Regions from separate parts of the Homo sapiens genome. Here all the other regions are reported to be linked to region 2. The links are microRNA targets in miRTarBase. Many come from high-throughput screens and were not tested one by one. Region 2 holds a microRNA gene; each other region holds the end of a gene's coding sequence. Distances are from middle to middle.

Region 1 (4,135 bases), 51 Mb from region 2:
CCACTGGACTTGGTTCTTTCCATTGAGTCCTGAGCCCCAGGCCAAGAAATAAATTTACTCCCCGACCACATTTCCACAAAGCTCCTGCCATCACTTTCTTTTCAGCAGGAGCCAACTGGGACCCAGAGCACTTGGTGCCCAGAGTACTCAGGAGCAGACAGGGGCTGGGGACCCACTGTGGGTCAGAGCTCACCCTCCCCGTTCTCACTCACCCTGGTGTTGCTGAAAGTCAGCTGTAAGGCATTTGGAACTCTGGGGAGACCATGATGTGCAAGACAGATGCTTTCTAGGGCCAAGACACAAAAGGCTTTGCCTCCAAACTAGTGATAAGGAATCAGAATTGTTTTGAATTAAATTTGGAGACTTGAGGTACTGGAACTAATCCGCCCTCCTCATGACAACCCAGCTTCCTCCACACTCATAAAGGAGGCATCTTTTGGCTCCAGCAGACACTGATATGATTGTAAGAACTCTGCCAGGGATGGTGCTACCTGGGGGCAGCAACTATTCCTGCATCAAGGCTGCATGGCCTCAGCAAGGCACAGCATCTCTTTGAGTCTCTGTGTCATCTGCAGGCTGGAATATTACTCTCCTTGGAGGTGCATGGTAAGCATCAGATAGGAGGGGTGGGTAAAGGGCCTGGCACAGTGCCAGGCAGATAGTAGGTATGCAACAGAGAACAGCTAGAGTGCTCATGACTGATCCTTGAAAGTTAAGTTTCTTCTCTGGTGAACCAGGCCCAGTCGGTCTTCTAGGGTTCTTCTTTCTATTTATATCTGTCTTCCTTCTTTCACAATTCCATCCAATTTTGGGATGTCAGCTCTCATCCCACCTCCTCCACAAAACTGTCTCTGTTCTTGGAACTCTCTACCAACAACGCCCACCATACTTATGGTGTGGCCCAGTGAACATGGAAGTGAGTGGTTAAGAGGAGGGGGGTCTTCAAGCAGAGCTGCCATATATGGCTGCACAGGTTGGGCACTGCCCAAGTATAGGGAGTACCATTCACATACACTGTAATGGGAGTGGGGCCCCAGTGAGTTGTAATGAAGAGGCTCTCTCTGTAAGCCAAATGGCCTGAGTTTGAATGTTGGCTCAACCACTCAATTGCTTGACAAAGCAAGGTATGTAACCTCCTAAGCCTCAGTTTCCTCATCTGTAAATGGGATGTTATTATGGGGTAGCTGATACCTACCCCATAATATTAGGTAGTTGAATGAGTTCAGAACAATGCCTGGTGCATACTAACATTTACTGAGCCCTTCATTGCATTATCATTATGATTAGAGTTGGTTTCTCATCATTGCATGTGTGGGTGTCTTTTCTCTCTGAGAAGGCTGTGAGCAACCTGGGGACAATGAGTCACTGAGAAATTGCAGCAGCTTGGCCCAGCACCTAGTGGGAGGCAGGGCCTCATGCTGTCCTCTCTCTCAGGATCCTACTTCATCTTTCTTTTTGCCAAAATTCACTTGTAATAGGCCTTTTTTAGTTACAAATCACAAAACTCTAAAGCAAACTAGTTTAAGCCAAAAGAAGCCTTTGTGGGCTGATATATGTGGGAAGTCTAAGGGAGGATCCGGTGGCTTCAAGAATAGCTGGATGCAGCACTTCTCCATCTCCTGGCTCTGCTTTTCTGAGCTGGCTTTATTCTCAAGCAGGTTTTTCCCCATGGGAGGAGAGCAGGTCACTGGGGTAGACTGAGTTTATAGTCTATGGCTTATGGTCCAACAAGAAGTGGAACTCTCCTCTCAGCATCCACAGAGCAATCTTATGGAGGGCCTCGAGTGACCCAGCTTGGGTTACATGCCTGCTTCTGGGACTAATCATTGTGGCTAGAGGGATTGGCACTTGACTGGCCAAGCTGGGGTCATGTGTGCACCCTAGTTTGGCAGTTGGACAAGAACCATGTGTGATGGGGAAGGAACATTTCTCCAACAGAGAGGTGCTGGGTATACGAGAATGTTGGCCATGTTCGCCCTCCTTCTTTATGGCTCAGTTCATAGGTCACTTCCTTAGGGAATCTTACCCTCCCTTCTCTCCTGCGTGGACCTCAACCTTCCCACAGTAAATTGCAAATTATTCCCTGATTCTCTCAGACCAGTCTGGGAACAACTTGAGGCAGGTACCAGAGCATATTTATTCATCTGTGTCCCTTAGGCCAAGCTTCCTGCCCCAGCTGTGGAAGAGACGTTGTCGGTGGTCTATCTAGCACTCACTTCCCTGTTTCCTACTCAGATCTTGTTGGGTTTTACTCTCTCTCCACCACCTTGATGGAGTAGCAAACTCCACTCTGACTGGCATAAAGCCATTACAGTCTCCTTTGCCACAGTGACTGAGGAATGGGCATGTGAGACTGAGTTTGGGCCACTGAAACATGATGGTATCTGGGAAAAGGCTTCTTGCTTCTGTAGATGGGCCATGGAAGCCCGCTGGCTCCGGCTCCCTCCTGTGCTGGATGTAAATGAGGAAGCATCTGGCCCCAACTGCTCCACTGCCACACTACAGCCAGAGAAGGACTCACCTTAGGCAGAGGTCGACACTGTGGAGGGCAGTGTGGTGACCCCTAAGAAACCTGGACCCTTGGGGGAGGGGGGAGGGAAAGCATTAGGAGATATACCTAATGTAAATGACGAGTTAATGGGTGCAGCACACCAACATGGCACATGTATACATATGTAACAAACCTGCACGTTGTACACATGTACCCTAGAACTTAAATTAAAAAAAAAAGAAACCTGGACCCTTGATGACCCTGAAGAATTGCTAGATTGGCTAACCGTGAAGGCCACTCTGTCCCAGGACTGCCCATCCTGCAGCCAACACATTTCCTTACTGTGAATCCACTTTGAGCTGGGGGGGCATTGTTACGTGCAGCCACAAGTATCCTCAGAAAGAGGTACTCAGAAAGTTCTCCCTGACTGAATGCCATGGGTTAGTGGCCATGGGCTGAGAGCCACCAAGCATACCCCCCACAAACCTTACCACCCACACTGGTTCCTTCCTCCCCACTGTAACAGACATTCAAAGACTGGATGCTTTTTTTGAAAAACCACAGCAGTCACTTTATTCTTAAGTTTGCACTTTACAAAACCACAAGGGAGAAGTCCTTGAAGGGGAGACAGGGGTAGGGGATTAGGGAGTGGGGGATGGTAAAGAGGGGAAGAGGAAGACCCAGAAACGAAGTCCCCTCCAACCCCATCTCGGGGACCAAGCAGAGACTAGGCCTCAGGCTAGCCCAGCAGGGCTTCCTGTGTCCTGGTTGTACAGAGCTAGGCCAAAAGACCTCAGGGGAAGGGCCACGGCCCTCTAGAGACTGCCGCCATTTGAGGGACAGCCACAGGCCAATGTTTCCTGTGCCCAAAGAAGGAAGTGGGCCTCCCTTCCCCTCCCCTAGGCCAGATAATCAGCCTGAGGCAGGGGTGAGGGCTACCCATCCAGCAGCTTCAGGATGCTCTCACGCTCCTTCAGAGTCTTCCAGGCCTGGTCCTTTTCTTTCTTGGTGGGAGTCCGCTTCTTCTGCCGGGCAGCCATGATCTTGCGAAAGGCGTCCATGACCTCGTTGTCAGCCATGCGCACCCGCTGCCTCAGCTCCTGCCGGCTCACCTCCTCCTTTGCCAGCCTGTGGGGACCAGCCAGCCAGGTGCCAGGGTCAGCCCACCTCCAGAGAACAACCCCTCCCTCTTCAAGACCGAGCCTACCCACCAGCCCAGGCTGGCATGCCTGTGGATTGTGTCATACAGTCGTGACCAAAAAGCAGTTACTGACCTACACTTACATGGCACTATCTTAAGCTCCTGAAAAATATTAACTCATGTTGATCACGGGGGAGGCTGTGCACATGTGGGGACAGGGAGATACGGGAATTCTCTGTACCTTTCTCTCAATTTTGTTGTGAACTTAAAACTGCTCTAGAAGAATAAAGTCTTGGCTGCACATGGGGGTTCACATCTGCAGTCCCAGCACTTTGGGAGCCCAAGGCAGAAGGATCACTTGAGCCCAGGAGTTCGAGACCAGTCTGAGCAACATAGTGAGACTGTCTCTACAAAAAATTTAAAAAATTAGCTGGGTGTGGTAGTGCACACCTGTAGTCCCAACTCCAAGGGAGCTGAGGATTGCTTGAGGCCAGGAGTTCAAG
Region 2 (4,135 bases):
TGTCTATGAGTTATTAACACCCTTGTCAGTAATATCACTTGTCATTAGGTCACAATTCTTGGGACTACCATTGTCTAGGTTCTTCTATTCCACATGCTTTGTTTCTGTGCATGTTGAGTCCAACATGTGTGTATATTTTAGGTAGTGTCACCTGTTTGGATATCCACAAGACCTATTTACACAACACCTGTTACAAAAACTCACCCCAGATGTTTTCTTGTTTGTTCAGTTTAATTTATTATACAAATCTTCACATTTGAAAATATAAGCAAAAGTGATTCTAAGCCACTACAGGAAATTCACAAAAGCAACACCTGGTGTCAACATATTTCATCACATTTTAATGATTATGATGTGCACAGGTGTGCTGAAAGTTTCTCCTCCATACTCTTTGATTCTTTTTTAAAATTTTTTTAATTATACAAGTAATACACTTCTAGAACTAATAAGCAATCATAGCAAGCTTGTGGGACAAAAGTTAATATACAAAGTCAATTGTCTTCTTATTGCTAGCAATGAACAATTGGGACTTGAAATTAAAAACACAATACCATTTACATTAATGCCAAAAATTTAAATACTTAGGTATAAATCAAACGTGAAAGATCTATATAAGGAAAACTATAAAACTTTGCTGAAAGAAATACAAAAGATCTAAGAAAAAGGAAAGCTATCCACATACGCAGACAGGAAATCTCAATATTGTCAAGATATCAGTTCTTCTCAACTTGACCTATACATTCAATGCAACCTCAGTTTTAAAAATCCCAAGCCAAAGTAAAAGCCATCTACGGCACACAGCATTCCGAAAGGTTTGGGCTACCTGACTATTATGGCACCAAGAAATCTCTGGTATATGAGAACTTTCACTTTAATTCAAAATGTTGGATGACCTGATTTTCAGCAGAAATGCTCTTCAAATCAGTTTCACTTAGGCTTTTTGGTGTGAAGTGAAACGATGCAGACAATGAGCTTTGGAGAATGAGGAACCACTGAATAACTTACTATGGAAGTGGATACTGACATGGCAAAGAAACGACAGCCTGGAGTTTTTAACAGAATGTTCCCAATGAGCAGGACCTGAAGATGTTTCTTCGTTCCAAAGGAGCTAGCAAAGAAGTGATTGTTAGCATCATATCAAAATAACTAAAAGCTATAACACACACTCTTGAACGTCTTTCAAAACAATGGGATCTATGAAGGATTATGATATCAGATCTTGATACTGTAAATATTTTGGGCCATTCTCCTGAATGCTTTCTTTTGTCCCATGAAAACCTAAACTTAGGGATTCTATGAGTTCCTCTACTCAGCTGGATTTACCTGTAAATGCCTTTGTTGATTGTTGACCAATGTCCCTTGTACCTTTTCCAATAGTCTCGATCTGAATAAACAGATGGTTAAAGTTTTGCAGGAAGTATATTTTTCATTGGGTCACAATGATCCCACAGATTTTGTAAGAAAGATGATTTTTTAAAACCCTTTCATCTTAATTCAGGGTACCAAGCAGGTAAAAACTAACATTGAATTTTTACAGGCAAGTTTCAATTTGAACAGTAGGGAATTGCTATTTTAATATGTGGTCCAGGAACCAAAATCCTAGACCTTTCCAATGACTATGCCAAAACAAACTACACAAATATCAAACAGAAGCTGTTTTCTCTCTGAGGTACTGAAGAAGAGGTACAAAAGCTTGCCTTAAGTTATCCAGATGTGGGGAAAAAAAGTTATCCAGATGTGATCTTTTGGCAGAGAAAAAGTTTAGTGAGAAGAATATTTTAGCTTGGTGCAAAAGTAACTATGGTTTTTGGGCAAAAACCATAGTTACTTTTGCACCAATCTAATGGATTGTCTCATAGAATAATAAATTAGCCTTCTGTGAAAGTAATTTGTGATAACTGAAAAATCCTTGGGTTCTGGATTCAAGCATAAGTACTTTATAAAGTCAAATCAAAGAATTAGTAAATGCTGGCTGTAACTTGAGGACATCAAGCATCACTCTTCTACTCTGGAGTTAAAAAAAAAAGATACAAAGTAAATTTAAAAAGTTAAGCAGAACACTGGGGAATTTTTGAAAGCCAGTCATATAATGTAGTGGTATCTTTTCATTTTGAATTTGGGCCTTTCAAAAAGGAGGGGTATGATTTCTTAACCACAGATATATATATGTAATAATTCTTTGGCTATTTTGTTTTACAGGTTTATGGAAACTCATGGTTGATATGCTCAGGTGCAGTCCTCCTAGCTACCTATTTTCCAGTTTGAATTACTCCAACATACCATTATTTGATACAGGCTGTGCTGCTGTAGAGATGGTAGTGCCATGGTGATTTGCTACACAGATCATCCCATCACCTAGGTATTAAGCCCAGCATCCATTAGTTACTCTTCCTTATGCTCTCCCTCCCAGCAGCACCCCTCCAACAGGCCCCAGTGTGTGTTGTTCCCTCCATGTGTTGACGTGTGCTCATTATTCAGCTCCCTGTTGTAAGTGAGAACATGTGGTGCTTGGTTTTCCGTTCCTGCGTTAATTTGCTGAGGGCAAAACCTGATTACTTTGAAAACAAGTTCTACTGTGGCAGGCAGAATCATGGCCACACCTAAAGATGTCAACGTTTTAATTTGAAGAAGCTGCGAATATGTTATGCAAAAAGATTTTGCAAATGTGATTAAGTTGAAATTTGATTAAGTTAAGGGCCTTGAGATGACCTTGAATCATCTGAGTGGACCTAATATAATGCTAAGGGTCCTTAAAAGTGGAAGAAGGAGGCAAAAGAGGTCAGAATGATGCTGTATAAGACAGACTTGACCACTTTGAAGGAGGTGAAAAGGAGGCTTTGAAGAAGGAAGGGACCATAAGCCAAAGAATGCAGGGGGCCACAAAGAAAACTGAAAAGCCAATGAAACAGAATCTCCCCTAAAGGCCCCAAAAAGGAATGCAGTACGGCTGGTACCTTTTCAGCCCAGTGGGCCCAGTATCATACTTCTGTCCTACAGAACCACAGGATGATAAATTTGTGTTGTTTGAAGCCACTGAGTCTGATAATTTGTTACAGCAGCAAAGATTAACATAGCAACTAAGTAGATGATTTGTTGCATTATAGGTGGTCACAAAATACAATCCTTTAGTATCATGTATTTTTTCCTCTTACAAGAGTAATTACATTTAAAAAAGCTATCTACTGTTCTAGAATCACTGTCGTTGTTTACAATAAAGTCCTTTAAATGTGCGCATAAAAAACTAAATGTGAATAAAATGTAAATAAAGGAATATTTTTGCCTAATAAATACAAAGAAAATGAAAATCCCAGCAACCTATTTTTTGTGGATATTAACAAACTGATTCTAAAGTGTACATGGAAAAGCAAAAGATTCAGAATATGCAAGACAATATTAAATGAGAAGAACAAAGTAGGAGCACTGACACTATCCGACTTCAAGAGTTAGAACAAAGCTATAGTAATTGAAACAGTGTGGTATTGGCAAAAGCCACCAAATACATCAGTGAAACAGAAGAGAAAGCCCACATAGTCTTTTCCACAAATGGATCTAGAACAAATGGATACCCACATGCAAAAAAAAAAAAAAAAAAAAAAAAAAAGAATCTAGACAAAGACCTCACACTATTCACAAAAATTGACTCAAAATGAATCACAGACCTAAATGTAAAATGTAAAACCATAGAACTCCTAGAAAATAATGTACAAGAAAGTTCAGCTGATCTTGAGCATGAAAGTGACTTTTTATATATAATACCAAAGGTGCAATCCATGAAAGAAATCATTGATAAGCTAGACTTCATTAAAATTGAAAACGTCTCCTTGATATAAGACACTGTCAACTGAGAAAGACAAGCCAAAGGCTAGGAGAAAATATTTGCAAGAAACATGTATGATAAAGAACTGTTATCCAAAATATTTTTTTTAAAGTCTTAAAACTCATTAAGAAAAATAATTTAAAAATGGGCAAAAGACTTGAACAGACACCTCACCAAAAAATACATACAGATGGAATACAGGCATATGAAAAGAAGCTCAACATATATTATTAGGATATTGCAAATTAAAACAATGATACCACTATGTACCTATTAGAATTGTGAAAATTCAAAACAATGACAACACCAAGTGCTAGT
Region 3 (4,135 bases), not on the chromosome of region 2:
AGTAACAGGACAATGAGTACCTGAGTAGAAATAGGTGTTTCAAGATGCCAAGAACAGTTTAAATATACAGGTGAGCTGAGTCTACAAGAAGGAAAAGTGGTTATGGCAGCCTGTTTCCAGATCTGATCATTGGAATGACATTTCTAGCAATGGCTTTGTCTGTGAGGTCCTGGCATATTTTGTGTAGCACAGATCCCTTTAAAGGAATGTTTTCGTAACACTCAAACTTATGTGGGAATGCAAATTACTATAGTGTAAAAATTCAATGACTTCCCACCTATTCCTGCAGGGCAGGAGATCAGAAGTCTTAAAACAGCTGTGGCTAAAAGCCCAAGCCCTCCCACTGCCCCGTGATAAAAATATTAAAGAAATTAACAAAACAAGCATCAGATGAGTCAATGGGCCTTGTACCATGTAGACAACAGATAATTTATAGCGACTTCTTCTGCAGGCAGCCTGAGAAACAAGAGCTTGCATACGAAATCCTGCCCTATCATTAAATATAATAATGAAAAAAACAGGGCCATTAAATGAGACCCTAAAAAAGTCTAGCTGCCAATCAGGTTGGGAAGATAAATAAAACAGCATAGTTTATTTTAACCTATATCTTCCACACTAACCTAGTTTGTCTATAGAAAAGCCATCTGCTGGCACCAGGCCAGTATGTCTTAATTTTCTTGTTATTCTAAGTATCTCATTTTTCCAAAAGAGGAAATGTGTAAGTAGCAGGTGTACATAGGTGACACATTTCTACAAAGCCTTCTCTGTAGTCTTGACCTGTGTGGGGACAGGGTCTACTTTTGGAAGCATTTTCAAAGGCAGAATAAAACTTTACTTGAGGTTTTCTCCATAGAAGGACACCAGAGTTGTGCCCATATGATGAGTCCCTCGTTGGTGTTGAATAAATTGTCTTTTCTCCAGGAAATAACCTTTGTTCTTTCATATTTACAGGTTTCTTTTGATGGACAGATGGAGTAATCTCCAAAACAAGAAATGGGGCAGAAGCAGTTTCTTTTCTGATCATGTCTCTGATGAAATGATAGGTCCTAGACTTTTCTGATACCTTGTATGGTGTGGGGAGGGGCTGGGCTGTGTCCTGGGATGGATGTACAGGCTGCTGTCTGGACCGGGGCTGTTCAGAGCCCCGTGGCCTTTTCCTGATGTTCCCTGCGCATCCAGCGCATCCACACTTTCAGGAATAATCATCTTGAGGAATTTCATCCCCAGCTGTTTAAATCAGAGTTCCATTTGCTGGAAAACAGAGAGAACCTAAATGAATTAACCCTTGGCTTTTTGGTATAACTTTTAACAAACATAATAATTCCATCATTCAGATTTCCAAATAGAGGCCAAGACGTAGTTTTATGCCCACTTGGTCTCCCAAATCTCTTGTTCACTGTGAATCTGTCTACTCCCATCACTTCCTCAGGAGCTGCAGAGAGAATTGTGGCAGACTAGAAGAGCAAAAGCTCATGACCAATATTACAGGCCAACATTCATAAATGCAACTTAGCATAGCTTTTTCTCCTTTCCTCTTCTGGAAGTTTTTAATCATGTCCCTGAGGTGGTAAGGAGCTTAGGAAATTAAAAGTGCACAAAAATGTTATCTAACAAGGAGAGGGAAAAGCAAAAGGTAAATGAAGAAAAGATGGAAACTCAATGTAATTCAGTTTGATATCCAATGCAGGCAATATAAGGGTCAGCAGAAAAGGGAGGCTGGATTCATGGGGTTTCTCAAAGCAAGGAGGACCCAAGGGGGAAAAAAAAGCAATTTTGGTGATTTTGAATGTAATAGTAAGAACTTCTTGCTCCATTGTAATTCCAGGGATCCCAGAATTACAATGGGATTCAGCAATATGAGTACAATTTAATTTGGAAGCAAGGCAGGAGACATAAGTCACTCTTTGAAACACAGATGGACTTATATAGCTGAAGTGGGTAAAATAAGGCTCCCATTAGCATTTCATTTGGAGAAAAAAGCAAGGAAGATGGAAATACCTAATTATACTTTAAAAGAAAGAAAAAGAATGTGTGAAGATGGTTGACGGTTTCAGGTCCTCTGTAAAAAAGGTGGCTTCTTCCTTCATATAAAACACTGTCTGGAGGATCAATTTAATTTATAATTAGGGAGATGAGAACGAACAGGTAAATGAATTGTTTGTTCTTTGTGGGTGTCCCCCCTGCTGTACATGCTCATCCTCCTCCTCTCTGGAGGTGTAGGTGGGTGGGGTCATTTCACTAGTGTTGTCTCAGTTAGGCCTCCATTCCTACTTTCCTTTGAAAGCTGTTCTTCTTGTGTACTCAACCCAGAAAATTCCAGGCCTATTGTCCTCAGCCCTCACTAGAGTCCTAGATACGCACCGTTTTATTTTCTTTTTTTGGTGTAAAGATTCAGTTAAAAAATATCTTCCTTCAGACATCTGCTGACTACAGGAAATTATTGTCATAGCCCATGTGAAGGTCATAATGAGACTAAGATGACGTTTTAAAACTCCTGAACTCTGTAGGGAAAAGCAAGTAGAAGCTATTATTCTTACTCGCTGGTAACATACTGTAGATAGCTCCAGGACTGAGACCCGAGGCCCGGAGGACACACTTAGTGTTCTCCCTATGTCACAGTCCTACAGGCCAGCAAAAGTGAGTACAACTGTCCCAGCATGTCAGTTACACATACTGGCCCTAAATGTTCAGCATAATTTAAAAGGGAAAGAAAAAAGTTGGCTTTTCAGACAAAATTTTGTGTGAACTGAACAACGTCAGACTATGCTTCTTTGGGTCCAAATAATTTTAACTTTACAGCTCTCAGATGTTCTGGCAGCTCATTCTTTGTTCATTTCACCTATTATACAAGTGTTTCTGGGTCCAAGCCACAGAGCAAAATAGACACAAATAAATCAAATAATAAATGTTTCATATAAAGGAGAAAATGCTAATGGTCTGTTATCTATACCAGCAGTCCCCAACTTTTCTGGCACCAGGGACTGGTTTCATGGAAGACAATTTTTGCAGGGACCCAGGAAGTGCGGGGTAGTGGGTGGTAGGATGGCTTTGGGATGAAACTGTTCCGCCTCAGATCCTCAGGCATTGAGGAGCCTGCAACCTAGATCCCTCACATGTGCAGTTCACAACAGGGTTTGTGCTCCTATGAGAATCTAATGCCGCTGCTGTGACAGCGGGCGGAGCTCAGGTGGTAATGCTTGCTCACCTGCCGCTCACCTCCTGCTGTGCAGCCCAGTTCCTGACAGGCCATGGACCAGTATGGTCCGTGACCTGGGGGTTGGGGACCCCTGATCTACACTACTGCACTGTAGGCTCTAAGGGAACTTAAAAACAGAAAAATAATGGAGAGAAGGTGTTTGTAGAACACAGACATGTCAGCAAAGGCACTGAGTATCTACTCCTGAGTGGTTACCTTTCCCTTTCCCTTCAGTTGCTCTCAGCCATGCTTTCGGTGTCACAATCTTTTGGTGGTTCTCCTCCTCCTGGCAACTCACTCTCGATTTCCCACAGGACATCGTCTTCCTCCTCCAAGTTGCTGGAGATATGGCACTTCTTGAACCCTTGGACGATGGACTCACTTGAGATGCTATTCCACGCGACCATGACCCACTCCAGAAAGAGGCCCAGGGGTGGCTTCTTAGCATTCCCGGTTGGGCTCAGCGCCAGGTTCCCAGCCAGAAGCCAGTTGGAGTACTGGGCCCGCACACTGTCATTCAGTGGCTTGTAGACCACGACATCCAGCACCTGAAGCTGTGAGGTCAGACCCCCTGGGATGATCACCATGTCAGTGTTCATGCTTTCCATGGAGTTCTTCACGGAATCTGTGGCATGGCCCCGGAAGCCATTCAAGATCAGCATCCCTCGCTGCTTGGGCACTGCTCCTGTCCTCCGTCTCCACACCACTTCCAACCAGTCCTGCATCAAGTCTTCAGTCATCCACCCATACCGGTGGCAGCGAATTTCCATCCCACTGGGAAACTTCCCCGGGGGGATATATGTTCCCCTCAAAATGATGTACGGTGGTAACTTCCTCCCATCAGCCAAGACACCAAGCATTGCTGTGATTTTCAGTTTTTCCCTGCCTGGTGTCTTGACCAAGACAGGCTTTTCGCCCTGGTTATCAACAGTTACCCGT
Region 4 (4,000 bases), not on the chromosome of region 2:
GGACTTGTTAAATAGTTTATTGTTTTACTTATGTTTGTATTTTGAGGAATAGATTCTTTAGAAGTGACATTCATGGTTCACTTGTTGGTTGTGCATTTTGATGGATACGCAAAAAGTGGGGAAGTTACACCATTTGCTAAGAACTTAAATACCTTTTCTTCTTTTCTTTTTTTTTAATCATCTTAGCAAGTCTGGAAAAGTTTGAAATTCCAGTAAAAATTCGTTTGAGTCCTGAACCGTGGACCCCTGAAACTGGTCTGGTGACAGATGCCTTCAAGCTGAAACGCAAAGAGCTTAAAACACATTACCAGGCGGACATTGAGCGAATGTATGGAAGAAAATAATTATTCTCTTCTGGCATCAGTTTGCTACAGTGAGCTCAGATCAAATAGGAAAATACTTGAAATGCATGTCTCAAGCTGCAAGGCAAACTCCATTCCTCATATTAAACTATTACTTCTCATGACGTCACCATTTTTAACTGACAGGATTAGTAAAACATTAAGACAGCAAACTTGTGTCTGTCTCTTCTTTCATTTTCCCCGCCACCAACTTACTTTACCACCTATGACTGTACTTGTCAGTATGAGAATTTTTCTGAATCATATTGGGGAAGCAGTGATTTTAAAACCTCAAGTTTTTAAACATGATTTATATGTTCTGTATAATGTTCAGTTTGTAACTTTTTAAAAGTTTGGATGTATAGAGGGATAAATAGGAAATATAAGAATTGGTTATTTGGGGGCTTTTTTACTTACTGTATTTAAAAATACAAGGGTATTGATATGAAATTATGTAAATTTCAAATGCTTATGAATCAAATCATTGTTGAACAAAAGATTTGTTGCTGTGTAATTATTGTCTTGTATGCATTTGAGAGAAATAAATATACCCATACTTATGTTTTAAGAAGTTGAGATCTTGTGAATATATGCCTGTCAGTGTCTTCTTTATATATTTATTTTTTATTAGAAAAAATGAAGTTTGGTTGGTGATGCATGAAACAAAATAGCAAGAGAGGGTTATAGTTTAATAGTAAGGGAGATAACACAGCATGTGTAGCACCAGTTGATAATTGGTCTCTAGTAGCTTACTGTCAAAATGTTCAATGAAGTCTTCTGTTCATCTGTTGAAACTAGGAAAATACCCAAACTTAAATGGAAGAATTCTGAAAGAGAGGATAGAATTTAAAGAACAAGAGTATATAAAGTTATTCTTTGAATATTTCGTTGACTATATGTACATTGAGTTATCTATATTTGTAAACAAATTAGTCATGGAAAATTATTCTATCTCAAAGTCTCCTTTTAGTCTAGATAATCATTATTTCATTTTAAAATTAGTGTTTTTCCTAGTTTGCACTGATGCGTGTATGGATGTGTGTGAGTCAGTGGTAGCTTATTTAAAAAGCACCTTATCCTTTCTCCCATAACCTTTGTACACTAAAAAATGAAAGAATTTAGAATGTATTTGATGATAGCATTCTCACTAAGACACATGAGAATTTAACTTTATAACCGCGTGAGTTAAGATTTAATTCATAGGTTTTGATGTCATTGTTGAAGTTATTTGTAATTCAGAAACCTTGCTTGTGTGATACATAGTCTCTTCATTTATTACTGCTTGTCTGTTGTTATATCTGGATTATCAAAAGCAATAGTGCACCAATTAAGATGTGCTCAAATCAGGACTTAAATCATAGGCACCACATTTTTCATGTCAGACTAGTTACTTTGTTGATTCTCAGTTACTGTAGGCATCAAAAGGCAAAAATCAAAAAAAAAAAAAACAAAAACAAAAAAAAAGATGAACCTAGGTCTGTGTAAAGTAAGGGGAGTGTTAGGAGCAGCCAGGACTGTGTAGTGTGTGTTTGGTTGCATCACAAACATCGTATGTGGAGACATTGCAATACAGTGTTTTTTGTTTTCAACTTTTCTTGTATTGTATATTTGTATTATGTTTTGAATGCTTTTCTCTTTTCATAATTAAATATTAATGTTTGGGATAACTGCCAAGAAGAAGTAAAAATATTGAATGGAACTTCTATATGAGGATGCTGTGATCTAAAAATTAAATCTCAGTGGGCGGAGAGAATTTGTTTCTGATGCCTTGTCTTTAGAATAATTGTTTGCTTTCAGATGATTAAAAAAAGGAGATTGTATCTAGGAAAAAAGTGTGAATGCTTCAAAGGAGAGATACTGATAATTGTGACTTGAAATAGTGTCAGATGAATTATGTAGCTGATCACTGATGGAACCATCTAATGAGGCAGGCTTAAACTCTATTTAGTTTCGTTTGTTTTCTCATATGAAGTTTATAATTCCTTTCAGTCCTAAAATGTCAGATGCCAGGTGTCAAATGCCACAGTAGAAAGTGAAATTAAGTAGAGTCCCCTTTTAAACAAATTTGTCTGTAAGCAAAACTATCTTTAGTGACTTAAAAAATAATATCCTCTAAAATTACCCTTTCAAGAGGAAAAAACTGTTCAATGAAAAAACCACTCAATTATGACTCATATAAGAAATACTGGTTTAACCAGGAGATATTTGGGGAGCAAAATTTTAAGGAATTTCAAATTGCTAAATCTAATACAAATATCTGACAATAAGATACAGATCTAAAAGAATGGTTCTTAAGAACTATTGTTTACTGGGAATAAACTAAGCTCTATGAAGAATTCGTAAGCATTACATGTTCCAGTAAGTTTAGCAACTTAGAGCCAAGACTGGTGGCCACCTCCATTTATTTCCCCACTGCTCCTCCACTGACATCCTTCTTAGCAGAAACTTCATGAAAAAGTTTTTGCTGACACAGAACAAACCTGAAAGTAGTATCTACTTTCTAAATACTACTTTGCTTTTCAGTAGTGGATTTGATATTTATAATGTTCTCTAAAGCTTGCAACTTTTTCAGCAACGTTTAAAAATAGATTAACCTGGAATAACTTACTTGTTTGCTGCTAAAATACTCAAGATTTTGCCATTTTTAAACAACCAGTCCCTGTGATACAACTTTGAAAAAACTTTTAAAAATCTCTGATGTGTGGGCTCTTTTTTTCCCATAAGAATTATGTACATCTGTGATGTTTTACAGGGGGATCCGCTTTTAAACAGTGTACATATTGGACCACACTGAAATGTCATATATCCTTTCTCTACTTAAAATTGGTTATTTACTGTGAGTTCATTTCCGATGTGTTCTTGGTTGTTGCTGTTTTCTGCCTGAAGACGTGTATCATAAAGAGCTACATGGTATGGACTATTTATTTGTAATTTGACATAAAGTTTGAAGAATAAAGATCTATAAAAGTTGAAGTTTCTGATATTAAAGCTCTTAATATATTGGCTTTTTTTTTTTTTTTTTTTGGTTTTGGTTTTTAAGAAAAGCTGTTCCTGTAAAAGTGAAACTTTCATTGACATTCCTGAAATACTTGAAGAAGGAGTTTGGGGAATTTTCCATCCTGACCTAACAACCTAACCAAAGGAAAACTTTTTATTCTAGAAATTCTGTTAATAATCTATTTCCTAGCCTTTTTATATTCTAACTTTCCCCTAACCCTTCCCGAATTCCTCCTTTCCATTCCTCCTTTTTGGTTCTGACTGCCCAGAAGATATACTGTCAGCATTTTAAATTCCAAAATATTCATACAGCATAAAATCTTGAATAGAGGTGGTAAATTGAAATTTGGCATCAAAATTAATGGGGTAGAATCTACAATGTGGCAGAAATATCTAAACTTTGTGCCAACATTTAATCCAATAATTGTGGGAGGAAGAGTTGTATCATGCTGTGTTTCAGAAACTAACCTCCCTCACCCACCCCATCTTTGACTGCCAGTCAATATTTGTGGGTATATGTAACTTTATCATAGCATACTTTTGTCTCTGTGTGTAATCCTGTAACAAAACCAGTTAAAGCTTTCTTTACATAAACATTTGGCATCTTTGTGTGTTTTGCATTAACTTAGACAGTTGTGCCTAATTTCTCCTCATTAACTTTG
Region 5 (4,135 bases), not on the chromosome of region 2:
AACCTCAGGTGATCCACCTGCCTTGGCCTCCCAAGTGCTGGGATTACAGGCATGAGCCACCACACCCCGCCTAAAAGAAAAAGATTTTTATTGTTCTCCAACTGACCCTGAAGGGAGCAAGCAGAATAGAGGGTATCTCATTTCTGTGTTTCCACAAAGCCACTGAAACAGGAATTTCATAAGGGTTCCTTCTGTCACCTATTTTCCATTTCTCTCCTTTGTCCCCAAACTTGCCCCTGTGCAGCAGCCAGCTCCTGTCACCATCTCTCTTTCAGAGGACTCCTGATGGATTTGACTCAGTGCCGCTGAAGACATCCTCAGGAGGCCTAGACATGGACCTGTGAGAGGCACTGCCTGCCTCACCTGCCTCCTCACCTTGCATAGCACCTTTGCAAGCCTGCGGCGATTTGGGTGCCAGCATCCTGCAACACCCACTGCTGGAAATCTCTTCATTGTGGCCTTATCAGATGTTTGAATTTCAGATCTTTTTTTATAGAGTACCCAAACCCTCCTTTCTGCTTGCCTCAAACCTGCCAAATATACCCACACTTTGTTTGTAAATTATGCCCTTGCTTGTATCTTGTTTCCCAAAATGGCCCATCCGCCAGAGCCATAGCTTCGTCTGCTCATAATTCTTATAGCTTTGGAATGAAAATATTTCTATCTTCTTAAGTATAGAAACTATTTCCTCTGTCCTCTAACTTAAGGGCAGAAACAGCTGGGAGTTTTCCTCGCATGCCCTCAGCTCATGATCTCTTCAGGAGAGAGGCTGGGTGAGGAGGGTGTCGGGGTTCCCTGGTGGATAATCTTCATAGCAGCCTGGATCCATTTCCCCTGGATAACCAGCTCAAAGGGAGTGAAAATGGTAGTCTGAGGGCAAGGGGAGCAAGGCCTGGGTAAGAAAAGCCTTGAAAAGCATAAAAAGAGGCCGGGCGCGGTGGCTCACGCCTGTAATCCCAGCACTTTGGGAGGCCGAGGCGGGCAGATCATGAGGTCGGGAGATTGAGACCATCCTGGCTAACACGGTGAAACCCCGTCTCTACTAAAAATACAAAAAATTAGCCGGGCGTGGTGGCGGGTGCCTGTAGTCCCAGCTACTCGGGAGGCTGAGGCGGGAGAATAGCGTGAACCTGGAAGGCGGAGCTTGCAGTGAGCCGAGATCGCGCCACTGCACTCCATCCAGCCTGGGTGACAGAGTGAGACTCTGCCTCAAAAAAAAAAAAAAAAAAAAAGAAAAGCACAAAGAGAGGCAACAAGGAATGTTTTTGTTTTTGAGACAGGCTCTCACTCTGTCACCTAGGCTGGAGTGCAGTGGCATAATCACTGTTCAGTGCAGCCTCAAGCTCTTGGGCTCAAGCTATCCTCCCATCTCAACCTCTCAAGTAGCTAGGACTACAAGTGTGCACCACCAGGCTCACTAATTTTTATATTTTTTGTAGACACAGGGTTTCACCATGTTGCCCAGGCTGGTCTCCAACTCCTGGGCTCAAGTGATCTGTCCGCCTCAGCCTCCCAAACTGCTGGGATTACAGGCATAAGCCACTGCACTCAGCCTTTTATTTGTTTTTTAAACCACGTAGCTCATTGCCTTCTCTTAAGTAAATGATAGATATTCTCACTGAAGCCAAAGGAATAAGTTCATCAAGAAAATGCCCAAAGCCCTGGTGGATACATCCTCCCTATCTTTTTTTTAAACCTTCCACTATCACTCTATGACACTGAAAAGAACCAGGTAAGCCCCAAACCCAGATGTTCCAGCCTTATCCTCTGTTGGGTTTACCCACAGACATAGCAAACCCTGTCAGTGAGGAAAATTCCCCATCCTTGAGTGCCCCCGTCCTAGAAGTTTGGGCCATATTATGGAACAGGGGTCTCTTATTTGAAAAGAGCACAAGGAGGCCAAGATTTTAATGGGGCACTTTAGGGGATACAGCCCACAATGGCATGGGCCTGAGGTGGCCGTGATGTCTGCTTCTAAGCTTAACGCATCTGCTCAGGCACAGAATAAACGTCTAGGCTGGCCAAAAAAGGAACTGAATCCCAGGCCCATACGCCAGCACCAGAATCAAACCAGTCTTCAAGGAAGGAAGGCTAGGAGAGTTTAACAAGATTTTCACTGGGCCCAGCATGGTGGCTCACACCTGTAATCCCAAGGCAGAATGGTGGCTTGAGCTCAGGAGTTCAAGACCAGCCTGGGCAACACAGTGAGACCCTGTCTCTAAAAAATTTAAAAATAAACAAGGTGTTCACCAAGCTGGGATACTTCTCACTATTAAGCCCCTATCTTTCTCTTTTTTTCATTCTCAATTGCTTTGTGTGATAAAAAACTAAAGAGACTTCTGGTCCAATTTCTGGCAACATCCCTTCTGAAAGGTGAGTAGAGTGGGTGTCTTCTATGCCCATTTTCCCCAATTTTACACAAACTATTATCAATGAACTTTTAAGTACCTAGAATGGGTAAAACCAGAGCAAGACTTTAAATTACCTTCTTCTTTCTTCTACTGGCAGTTCTGCCTCCATCACTATCAGGCTAGGGTGACCTTCCCTTGGTCAAGCCCCAATTGCCCATGATTTGTGCCTGTGCCCTTTCTCCAGTGACCATTTGGTGACCAGATGGTAGATATAGAAAGGGGATGGCATTTGCAAGTGACTAGTCTGCCACAAAATGCTCATCTGATTAGCCACTGCTGCCCTGGCAATGGCTTTGTAAGAGTCAATGAGAACTAGAGCCAGGCTGTGGTCCCTGGCCATCAACAGTGTTGGTGACGGCAGGGAGTCCCTTTGGTTTAATAAATCCAGTTTTTCTTTGGGTATCCAAATTCTCCCCTCCTTTTGTAGGAGTCAGGCTCTCAGAACCTGTGTCCATGTTGGAACTTCCCCCAGTGTGGATGCAGATACGCAGCTCCTGAGCTCCAGCCTAAAGTCTTCTGTAGCCTCAGCAATACTTGGGCACCTGCTGTCTCACTGAATAGCTTTCTTTTGTGACAAAGGCCACAGACAGCCCTTAGACTATTCCGGAAACAGTAGGAAAAATTACATATGTCTTTGACTTCTTTATTCTGACTCCACTGATTTTAGCCATAATACTTTAAGGAGCTACTTTTTACTACCCCTTACCGTGCTGACTTCTGCAGGTCTGCCCTGTGACCTGTCAGGAACTCCTGAGTTACGCTACTGGGGTCACCTGTTGCTCCCCTAGCAAGTTAGGCATGTCATATATTTTTAACAGCTTTATTGAGATATAATTCACATATTACACAATTCACCTTTAAAACATACGATTCAATGGTTTTCAGCAAACTCACAGAGTTGTCCGCCCACTTGAGAGCAAACACATGTTCAATTTTCTTTTCCTTTTTTTTTTTGAGACAGAGTCAGCTTTGTTGCCCAGGCTGGAGTGCAGTGCCATGATCTTGGCTCACTGCAGCCTCCCCATCCTGGGTTCAAGTGATCCTTCTGCTTCAGCCTCCCCAGTAGCTGGGATTACAAGCATGCGCCACCACGCCTAGCTAATTTTTGTGTTTTTAGTAGAGATGGGGTTTCACCATGTTGGCCAGGCTGGTCTCAAACTCCTGGACTCAAGTGATCCACCCACCTCGGCCTCCCAAAGTGCTGGGATTACAGGTGTAAGCCACCGTGCCTGGCCTACATGTTCAATTTTCTATGAACAAAGGCTTTAGTCCTTGACCCAGGGCTAAAGTGGTCTGTCCAAGCTGTTGTTGGTAGAGGGAGTATGATAAAATGTTTAAATCTCATTTGGTTACCTTGAGTCCTGGAACATGCAGTAACTGTCATGCTATAGACATCATCTGTATTTGGCTGGGAATACAAATGAAGATTGTGGTGTATTCAAGCAGTAGGGTTTTTGCTTTTGTTTTTGTTTTAGTGCCAACAAAACTTTTTTTTGTCTGACTACATTAAAGATAAGACTGACTATATTTATACAACAGAAACTTTGTAATAGATTTTTTCAGCTTTGTGAAATCGAATTTTTTTTCATCAGGGCTGGTTGGATTTCCTTTTTACCCTGTAATCCAAGCGTTAATAGTTTGTTAGAAGATGGGTTATTGCATGTCACTTTTTTTTTTTGTAAAATAAAAACATACCTTACAAGTTGTTTTTCTTAAACATGGGT
Region 6 (4,000 bases), not on the chromosome of region 2:
GTACCCTGATCTAGGTGGTTTGTAATTGTGCATTACTGACTGCATATGTTTGTGTATGTGTAAATGTGGGCTCCCTGTTAAGTGGGGCTCATGGATACGAGGCCTGAGGAAGTGTGGCTTGCTAGTCTGTTACGTTAACATGCTTTTCTAAAATTGCTTCACGTGTTAATTCATTTACTCCTGCATTCATTGACTGTTTTTGTTCTTTTCCATTCACTTTGTACTTATTTTTTTCATTAAATTTTGCATTTATTTTGAGTTTTTGTGGTGTCTTTTTTGGGCAGTAGCTTTTCTGATTTAACGTTTCCTGAGCCCATTAATCTGCTACAACTGTGGTAAAATACAGCTTGTCTGTTCTTTGAATTTTGTGGAGGTTGATCTACTTCTGTAGGAATTGTTTTAATAGGAAACCCTGCTACAGACATCTGTGAAAGGCTCTTGCATAGGTGGGGGATGGAGGGAAGAGTCACAGGAAAGTTACAGGAAGGTAAAGGGGCAGCCTGTGGTCCATGAATCTTTATTGGTTAACTGGGTGCAGGACATGAGAAAAGGGGCACCTGCCCTTGAGGAGTGTTCCTCCTTAACACAAAGGCTTGCCACGGGACTACTAATATTCGAGTGCCAGGACTGCTCGGAACCATATTACATGCATTAACTCCTCTAATCCTCATCCTAATCCTATGATTAGGGACCATTCATCCCCATTTTATAGCTGAAGCACAGAGGTTTAAGTAATTACCCAAGGTTACATGGCAAGTAACTGGAGAAGTTGAGATTTGAACGCTGGTAGTCTGTACCCTTAAATCCTGAGCTACACCTGCTCCTTGGCATCTCAATGGAATGATGGAAGAGTAGTGAAAGTGTGGCTAGTGTTAAAGTACACAGCCTGATGGTGTGGGCTGGTGGACCTGAGACTGTTTTTTAGAGGTAGAAAGCCCTAGGGGACAGGCAAAAGTGGCTGAGGAAGAGCAGACTGGTGAAAAGAAGTGATAAAAAGTATGTGGGTTTGTTTTTTAAGGAGCTTTCTCCATTGAGCACTAGGTAGGTTTGGGAAGACCAAAATGAGAAAATGGGGACCCCTGCAGGGAGAGTGGTATGAACACATCCCTAATGCAGGCATAGCTCAGCTCTACTTGTGCAGGCAGCAGGGAGGCAAAGTAAAGTATTCACCAAGCTTTGAAGGACAGAGACTCTCCAGGAAGCCAGGGGGAGGAGGGCCTCCTAGGTGGTGGAAACATCATCAAATGACTTGGCTCATTCATTTCAGGGAAGTACTGTTTGGACAAGTTTAAGACAGGTCTATGATGCTCCCCCTGCCCTGTTCCTCCCTGAGCCCACCTACCTTTCTTTCTGCCATAGCATCTGCCTCTGAGCTTTTTCCATCTCCATTTTCTTCAGCCTCATTCCTTCACCAATCCCTGCCTTTCAATAGCTGGGGTCAAAAGGAAAATAGATTGTATCCATATTTCTCCCTGAGAAATGTTTCCCAATCTCTGAGTTGAGGTGGGATAGGAGTTCCTAATGTCAGAAAAGAATATTAGAGGGAAGTAGGATGGGACCTGGGGCCCCACGGCAAGCTTGAAAAGCACATAAGATTTTTAAAAATCCACGAGTGGGACTTCGGCAATACAAAAGTGAGCTTCCCTATAGAAGAGTTCTATCATTTATAGAAAGCCAGAGCAGAAGGTTGTCTCTTACCCCAGTCCTAGGACTCACATGTCTACCCTCTGCTTTCTCCAAGAGGTTTGAGTTGGATCAGCTCTCAGAATCCAGCTCACATCCATAGCCACCTGGTTAAGCAGCAGATGTCTTCCAGCAGTTCCCCTAAAGCCTGGGATGCCTAAACTGGTATGGGCCCTCAGGATGTCCTTCTGCCTCATGCACTGTGGTCCCACTTACACTGGAAGGAAGGAGGCAGAGGGCACTCAACGGCCACCACTGGAAGCTGTGAGCAGCATGGCCTCAGCATCTCCATCTGTAAAATGGGTTCTGGACTAGAGGAGAGTTCTTGATATGACCTAGGAGATAGTGTTCCAAATGTATCTGACTCTCGCAAGGCTAAATGCATGGTAGCTCAAAATAAGACTCATACAGGATCGGAAGCAATTAAAGTGTAATTTTAACGAAAGCACCAACAAGCAAAAGTGTGTCAAGAAAAAATACAGATGTATACTAACTCTATAATATAGACAATTATAGTATATCTGGCCCTTGACCACTTTGCACCTAGTAAATCTTTCCCCTCCCACCCCATGGCTTAGCACATTTACACAAACACACCAAAAAAAAAAAAAAAAAAAAAAAACCATAGTTCACAGTGGAAGACTTCACAAACCACCTCTGAATGTGTGGCTCAGTCATTCATGCCCCCAACACAACTTACACAGCCCCAGCTGGCATCTTTGTCAGCTGCACTCCCCTGCTTAGAGAATGGCTCTGTGGTAGCACAGCATGAGAGAGGCAGCCGGCTCCTCCTCCTGGCAGCACTGTGGTTGGAGCAGGCTTGGCCTCAGAACCTGCTCATCCCAACAGAAAGCATTCAGAGCTGTGCCTCCCATCACAGGTGTTAGCCTATAATACCCATTCATTAGCACAAAATCCCTCTAGTTAAACTAATAACTGAAACCACTTTGCTTAAGAGTAACAAAGGAAAGATATGCCTAAAGCTTGCTCAAGTTACATTAAACAAAGCATACTTTATAATCCAGTCCTTGTAAAGGGAAGACATAAGTCATAGCCATGGTTGGGTAAATGCATCTGCAGAGACTGTCCCATGTGAGGAGTGGCAGGCAGGGTAGTTGGGACTGGAAGCACCACATATGTGTTTGGGATAAGCCTGGGAAGTTGGAAGGACCTGGCCAGCTCTGGCAGGTAGAGCAGCAAGAACTGGTCAGAGCTAGCCCCAGCCCTTCAGCCCTGAGCCAGGCCTGCCTCTTGGTTTCATATTCCAGCGCTCCCAGGGGCCAATGCCAACCCTTGCTGGAGAAGGAAGGTAAAACAAGCTGCCATTTGAACATTCATTCATACTCCCTGGCTTCAGGCCCAGAGGAGAAAAAGGGAAGACAGGGTCATAGTCTATCAGACCACCCTGACCTCTACTGACCTCAGCCTGCCTTTCCCCTCTCCCCTTTATTTTTTTTCCAAGGGCTCAGTTGGGAACTTTTTCTCAGTTGCTCTTCCAGAGCCACCTTCCCTTTTTACAGGATTCATAACAAGCCAAAGAACTCATGGTAGTCCAAGCAAGGAGGTTTCACACTATGCTCTGAAAGCCCCGGGGTGGAGGCAGAGGGGCTAGTTGGCAGGTGACACAAAGTTGTCTGTGCAGGAGGATGACTGAAGACTTCTCAGTTGCTGCATTACAAGTTCCTTGCAGCAGCTGTACTGCATATCACCAACCTGTATTAGAATAGAGTGGCCATCTTCAAGCAGAACCATCATACATTCTAAGAAATTGGCAATTGAGTGCCAAAATGTTAGCATGAAGCAAGTTCAGGAAGGTCCAACCACCCAACTAAGGACCACTAATCCTACCATCTCAGGGACATCCATTTCCAACCTCAGTAAAGTTGTCATTAGTCTAACTATGCATTCCATCCTAACCTATCTGTTCTGAGGGATTCTGACACACCCCTCTCCTCCTTGTGCCCCCACAATGCTTGCCTCATGGTACCCCTGTACCTGGTACCACACACTCATACAAAGGAGAGGTGAAGGAGTTTAGAATTTATGCTCCTCAGTATTAAGCTCAGGGTTGCTTCCTCCTAAGCCAGACATACCCCTGACTCCCCACAGTCCTCTTGGCTACAAGGGCTCCCATTGAGATAAAGATTCTCTCACTCTCAGAGACCACCCCCATTGGTCCAGTGAAGGGAACACATGTCCCATCTCAAGTGCATAGAGCGTGACCAAGTGTGGAAAGCCTAGCCTTTGGGCAGACTCTTTCCAGGGTTATGGCCAGAACATTTTCCAGAGGCTACAAGGGCAAAGGGTACCCCTTTGG

What was found. The annotated mature microRNA hsa-miR-548bb-3p reads CAAAAACCAUAGUUACUUUUGC and lies in region 2 at 1,789-1,810, opposite strand. An mRNA with a match to its seed (bases 2 to 7 or 8) in the 3' UTR can be bound and repressed. Matches are read on the target gene's strand: a 7mer-m8 pairs with bases 2 to 8, a 7mer-A1 pairs with bases 2 to 7 and ends in A, and an 8mer does both.
Region 1: miRTarBase lists TADA3 as a target of hsa-miR-548bb-3p. Seed matches in the 3' UTR shown: 7mer-m8 at 3,045-3,051.
Region 3: the mRNA of POGK is a reported target of hsa-miR-548bb-3p. The part of its 3' UTR that is shown has no 7-base or 8-base seed match.
Region 4: miRTarBase lists ACSL3 as a target of hsa-miR-548bb-3p. Seed matches in the 3' UTR shown: 7mer-A1 at 637-643.
Region 5: miRTarBase lists ELAPOR1 as a target of hsa-miR-548bb-3p. Seed matches in the 3' UTR shown: 7mer-A1 at 3,521-3,527 and 7mer-m8 at 3,861-3,867.
Region 6: miRTarBase lists CCNI2 as a target of hsa-miR-548bb-3p. Seed matches in the 3' UTR shown: 7mer-m8 at 2,301-2,307.

Annotation. Positions count from the first base shown.
Region 1 is chr3:9,776,931-9,781,065 of GRCh38, forward strand. It overlaps TADA3 (transcriptional adaptor 3), which reads right to left. Exons shown (of 9, transcript NM_006354.5): 9 at 3,037-3,619. The coding sequence ends at 3,427. It also overlaps a transcript of OGG1 not described here. Among named protein-coding and RNA genes, the nearest start is that of CAMK1, 9.1 kb to the left of the region's middle. RefSeq lists an enhancer at 1,215-1,509.
Region 2 is chr3:60,616,027-60,620,161 of GRCh38, forward strand. It overlaps MIR548BB (microRNA 548bb), which reads right to left and starts at 1,844; the gene lies at 1,779-1,844. The region is part of intron 4 of FHIT (fragile histidine triad diadenosine triphosphatase); the gene reads right to left. It also overlaps the pseudogene MTERF1P1.
Region 3 is chr1:166,849,701-166,853,835 of GRCh38, reverse strand. POGK (pogo transposable element derived with KRAB domain) reads right to left here. Exons shown (of 6, transcript NM_017542.5): 5 at 3,413-4,135; 6 at 1-1,251. The coding sequence ends at 3,427. Among named protein-coding and RNA genes, the nearest start is that of POGK, 12 kb to the right of the region's middle.
Region 4 is chr2:222,941,311-222,945,310 of GRCh38, forward strand. ACSL3 (acyl-CoA synthetase long chain family member 3) reads left to right here. Exons shown (of 17, transcript NM_004457.5): 17 at 187-3,329. The coding sequence ends at 344. Among named protein-coding and RNA genes, the nearest start is that of ACSL3-AS1, 24 kb to the left of the region's middle. RefSeq lists a silencer at 2,712-2,861.
Region 5 is chr1:109,202,669-109,206,803 of GRCh38, forward strand. ELAPOR1 (endosome-lysosome associated apoptosis and autophagy regulator 1) reads left to right here. Exons shown (of 22, transcript NM_020775.5): 22 at 276-4,113. The coding sequence ends at 344. Among named protein-coding and RNA genes, the nearest start is that of SARS1, 9.2 kb to the right of the region's middle.
Region 6 is chr5:132,752,262-132,756,261 of GRCh38, reverse strand. It overlaps CCNI2 (cyclin I family member 2), which reads right to left. Exons shown (of 6, transcript NM_001039780.4): 6 at 1,859-3,396. The coding sequence ends at 3,292. All of the region lies in intron 9 of SEPTIN8 (septin 8), which reads left to right. Among named protein-coding and RNA genes, the nearest start is that of CCNI2, 6.8 kb to the right of the region's middle.